2 separate regions of the Homo sapiens genome follow, and region 1 is linked to region 2. A link means that fine-mapping ties the variant in region 2 to the expression of a gene that starts in the linked region. Tissue or cell type: blood mononuclear cells. Region 2 holds a variant in brackets; the other region holds the start of a gene. All regions are shown on one strand. Distances are between the middles of the regions.

Region 1 (2,628 bases), 53 kb after region 2:
AGATTTTATGAGGGGAAAAAAAAAAAGAAACAGAAATGTGAAGCTCATGGTAAGTTAGCGGCAGGTCTGGAGTTGGAACTCTAGGTTTCTGACTTCCCCAGGTGTCCTTCCCAGATCCTTCCCCAGTGTGCCAGCATCTTAAGCCCACTCCGTGGCGAGCCCCTACAGCTAGCAGCCGCTACCAGTTCTTGCTTCCTGTGTGCCAGGCATTGTGCACACGAACACCACAAGAACCTTGTGAGGCCTCATTACCTGCCGCTCACGTGGGACCGTTATGTTTACTCGCTCAAGGTCACAACAGTCAGGGGCAGAAGAATTTTCGCTCCGATTCTGAAGCTGAAGCTGTTACCTTCTCTAGTCTTGAGACCAAAGGAATGCGAGATAGTGAAATAACAAGGATTTCAACACGCATTGATGTACTGTACAAAAGGCCGTGTGCTGAAAGTCTGGAGACTAGGGTCAGCTGTGCCAGTGACAAGCTGTGTGACCCTGGGCAAATCAAAACCTCTCTGAGTTTCGGTTGCTTCTGTAAAACGAGGGAATTGGGCGACTGGATCGCGCGGTTGCTTCTAATTCTAAAATTACAAAATGTCCAACTGCCAGGCGAGAGACTACGGAAGCCCAGTAAGACAGGAAGGGCGGGCGGGGCCTGCCCGGGAGACCCCAAAGCGAGAAAAGGGAGCGCCCGCCCCAGTGGGCCTCGCGGTGCCGCCCGGGCCAAAGAGCGCGCCCTCAGGGCAGCCGCGAAGCCGGGGAGCGAGCACGCACGCGCGCGCCGCCGCCGCCGGTCCCGGGTTACCTGATAACGCTGCCGCCGCCGCCTCCCCGCGCACGGGCAGTGTGGCCAGGGGCGGCAGCCAGAGCAGCAGCCACCACCGCCCTTGGCGCGGCCCCATTTCGTTAGGGGTCAGCTCCGTGCGACCCGAGCCCTAGGGGACCGGCTCCGCTGCGAGGAGCGGAAGTGGCGCGGGGGCTCAGAGAAGGCGGAGGGGGCGGTGAGGCCCGAACGCGGGAAAGGCGGAGACCCCGCCTCCCCGGGGCGGAGGGAGAGTTGGGCTCGTTGCTCCAGCCTCCGCCCGCGGCCTCGGGGCACGGCGGGCCCAGGCCGGAGGAGCTTTCGGTGGCGCGACCCCGCTGGCATGCTCCCGGCCTCGGCCTCGGCCTCGGCCTTGGCCTCCGGGCCTCCAGCGCACGCGGGGCGTCCAGGGCCTCATCTTCCCCTGGGGACCGCCCGGCCGTGTCCCGCTGCCCTCGGCGCAGGGGTGGGAGTTGCAGAGAGGAAGAGTCGCTAACCCGGAGTGTTTCTTAAAACTTGGCTGACCTGTGACCTGCGGATTTGGAGGCTGAATTCTCCGAGCACCTGTGAGTGACAGCCCGTGAATGGGAAGGTCCTTCGGCAAACGCCCTTTTTGTGAATAAAATACATAAAAGCCAGTTTCTTTATTTTACCTTTCTGTTTATCTTTTTACTTTCATTTGGTAACAAGCAATAACAAATTGGAAATTTGGCCGCTTAAGTAACACTGACTTGTATGTCTAATCTCGGACACGGCATTTCAGAGTACAGAGGGGCTCGTAAAATGTTCCTTCACCAACATGACAAGGTTCTCTTAAAATTACCTTATGTTAAAAAAAAGTTTCTTAATGTAATAGATATATTTTTAAATTAACATATAACCTGAATGATCTTAATACTGATAATTAGGAGATATACATATATTTTAAAGAACATTCCCTCCACAGGACCTGGAACCCATTAATTTGACTCAATATTCCATACTTAACTAGGACAGTCTTCTCTAATTCTGGTCTTTTGGTGAGATATCTTAGAGAACCCAAAGTAACAGAAATTATCCTGTTAAAAATAGATAAGCCTCATTTTTCCTAAAAGTCTGAGTAGGATGGACTAGGCTTTCCTTGCCCTCAAAGAAAGGTTTAACCAACTGCCCTTAAGCACTTGGCACCATGTGTACACCATGTATGGCTTTTAAAAAGTTAAGAAATTTCCTTGTAAGGGACTCTTCAGAGGGATGGTTTTTAAAAATAAACCATCATTACTTGAGTGAAGCCTGTCTTCAGAGAAACAGCAGAGCCCTGATCCAATTCTTTCCTGTATTCCCAGGTGCGGTGTGCACTTGCTTCTTGCAAGACAGCTTTTGTACCTAACCACATTCATTTTGATTTGGTTTAATTTTGGATGGCACTATGGAAAGTAGCTAAAATAAACAGGTGGGTTGTTGAATGATGAATGTATTTTCTACAGATATATCTGGTGGAGAAACAAAAGGGCAGGCAGCAATGTACTAAATATTTAAAGTGCTATTTATATCACAGATCCTTAGTAAATATCTGTAAAGAAGCTATATTGAAACACCACATTTTTCTCTATAAGCAATAAATATTTTTCCGGAGATAACAAGAATGTTAGGAGGTGATAGTTCTGTCACTGGGGGACAATCATGAAATTCCACTTAACCTCTCCAAACTTTTCTTCTGTATGAAAACCTTATCCACTGGGGGAAGGGCAGGAAGCTTTACCACCAACAGGATCCTGGCAAAGACCCCCTGCTTCTGGAGAAGAGATAGAAGCACAAACCTTCTGCCCTTTGGGGAGCAGCAGGAGCAGGAA
Region 2 (2,760 bases):
AATGACCAAAGCGTAAGGGAAATGTGGCTAGTCAGTGCACACTATTAATAAAGTTATCTTTGAGGAAGATAAGTGAAATCTTTATTGGCTGATAGAAAAGCAGTTCTCATGTGTGGCTTCAGGTGGGAAAACACTGGGCGTGTAGTATAATGTTGCCAAGTCTTAACATTAAACTCCCTGGGTTTTGGGTGGTAGTCTCCTAAAACCTGCTTAAAGGTATGCCAAAGGCATAATGCCAGCATGTAAAAATTCACGAGGGCCCCCTAGAACATTGTTACATCAGTTATAGACTTTTTTTAAGCAACTCATATATTTTTTTAAGTTTGCAAGCTAGAGCTTATAGAAGAGATCTACTATTTTATTTCCTCTGTCCACTTTTACTTATATATGGGATTTGGAAGTTTTCTCCAACCTTACCCAGGGTACCTTTTATCCATAAATGCTTTCTTCGTCATATCCCAACATGTAGACCACTGCCTACCCTGTTTCAGTTCAATGTCCTTTTGTTCAGCTGCTGTTACATGTCAGCCCTCTGCTGGGTGCTGGATATGTCTGTTCTCAAGGAGCTCAGTCTGCGTCCCCTTTAGATAAATCCTGCCCCCTTTCACCTGCCAGACTGTAAGCTCCTTGGTGGCTGGGGACATTATTTTGCATATTGTCATATTTTCAAAGCCTAGCAGGCTATCTGGCACATAATATAGATGCTGAGTAAATACTGTTGAATGCATGAAGGGGATTCTTGCAGTCCTATACATCAATAGGTGTGGGAATGTTGGCTTTTAACACAAATTGTTGCATGTCTTATATAAACTTTCTTTCGTGCAGCACACAGAAGATCCATGCTGCTGCTGCTGCTAAGTCCATTGCTCTTTGTAGGATCCTCCGCCATTTGTGGAAGGTGTATTGCTGTTAGTAGCCCCAACTCTGACAGAGAGACTGGCTTGCTACTCACCATCTCTGTTTCCTTTTCTTCGTGGACATGCAGCTAGATTCTATTTCCCAGCCTCCCTTGCAGTTAGGTATGACCATGTGGTTAATTCTGGCCAGCGGAATAAAAGCAGAAATGATAGGAGGAAAGGATAGCA[C/T]GTGGGAAATTGTATGGGTCAGGTGCAGAGGTGTGTCACTCCCTTCTCTGTCAGCTGGATATTGATACCTAGGGTAACCAGGCATTGCAGATGGCAGATTCTCTGTAACCTGGATCCCTGAATGACTATGGAGCAGAGCTGCTACTACTCCTGTCTCCTGTTCATTGGACTTTGTGTGAGCAAGAAAAGAAAACATTTAATGTGTGAAACCACTAAGATTTCCAATATAGACTTTTTCTTTTATTGCCTGCCCAATGGAGGCCTTTCCTTAGGAAGAATAGTCTCTTACTGATTTTCACCAAGTTGACCTTTCGGAAGCTTTCCTTTTTTTTTTTTTTTAATCCCAGAACTAATTGAAATGTATGCTTTGGTCTATTCATGGGAAAGGTTTGTCACAGCTGATTCTGTGTGCCAATGCTAAAGGGATAGTTATGTTTTGTTCAGTAAGCTTAAGTCAGTGGCAGAAGGAAGAAAAACAAAACAATCCTAGTTCCCTAGTACTGTGTCAGTTCTCACTCCTCCCAGCCATTATAATGTGATTTCCCCAAGCCAAGCAACAGTTTACAAAGAGCAGCTGTCTCCTTAAGAAGAAAGGACTTTTTTTCCTGCTCATACATGCCATTTATTTCAGTAGAGCATTCTTGTGGGCCAAGACTGAACAATTTTGAAATGCATGTTGTACAATCAGATACCAGTGTTGAGTGTTATAAGGTATTTGGGGCATTTAAAAAACAATATAGATGACATGTCAGCTCTTCAGAAAGGGTGGAGAAGAGTTATTAAGACTATCATCTTTTTTTTTTTTTTTTTTTTTTTTTTTTTTTTTTTAGACGGAGTCTCACTCTGTCGCCCAGGCCGGACTGCGGACTGCAGTGGCGCAATCTCGGCTCACTGCAAGCTCTGCTTCCCGGGTTCACGCCATTCTCCTGCCTCAGCCTCCCGAGTAGCTGGGACTACAGGCGCCTGCCACCGCGCCCGGCTAATTTTTTTGTATTTTTAGTAGAGACGGGGTTTCACCTTGTTAGCCAGGATGGTCTCGATCTCCTGACCTCGTGATCCACCCGCCTCGGCCTCCCAAAGTGCTGGGATTACAGGCGTGAGCCACCGCGCCCGGCCGACTATCATCTTTTAAACTGGTAGCTTGTGGGGTATGTTTGATATTAACAACAAAATCTCTCAAAGTAGATAGTTACATTTACTATAGAATACTTCTAACAATTGTTATGAGAACATATAGTGTAATATTTAAGCACCTAAGCTCTGAACTTGGACACCTTGGGTTCAAATCCTATTCAACAACTCTCTTCTCTGTGTGACTCTGGACAAGGCATCTAATATCTCTGTGCCTTGGTTTCCTTTTTGGAAAATGAAGAAAAAATAGTACTGTACCTATTGGAGGAATAGATTCAATAATCTGTGTAAAACACTTAGCACAATTCCTTGTAGAGTAAGCTGATGTGATAATATTAATGAAAACAGGGTTGGGCGCAGTGGCTCACGCCCGTAATCCCAGCACTTTGAGAGGCCGAGGCAGGCAGATCACGAGGTCAAGAGATCAAGACCATCCTGGCCAACATGGTGAAACCCTGTCTCTACTAAGGGTACGAAAATTAGCTGGGCGTGGTGGCACACACCTGTAGTCCCAGCTACTCGGAAGGCTGAGGCAGGAGAATTG

The links. PIP is the estimated chance that this variant, and not a neighbour inherited with it, causes the effect.
Region 1: NEMP2 starts here. The variant in region 2 is fine-mapped to the expression of NEMP2 in blood mononuclear cells (TOPMed, PIP 0.91).

Annotation. Positions count from the first base shown.
Region 1 is chr2:190,533,760-190,536,387 of GRCh38, forward strand. NEMP2 (nuclear envelope integral membrane protein 2) reads right to left here and starts at 963. Exons shown (of 9, transcript NM_001142645.2): 1 at 800-963. The coding sequence starts at 896. NEMP2-DT (NEMP2 divergent transcript) reads left to right here and starts at 1,079. Exons shown (of 5, transcript NR_183903.1): 1 at 1,079-1,362. RefSeq lists a silencer at 627-1,276.
Region 2 is chr2:190,480,991-190,483,750 of GRCh38, forward strand. All of the region lies in intron 4 of MFSD6 (major facilitator superfamily domain containing 6), which reads left to right. It also overlaps a transcript of NEMP2 not described here. Among named protein-coding and RNA genes, the nearest start is that of NEMP2, 52 kb to the right of the region's middle. The variant C/T (reference allele first, on the strand shown) is at 1,086.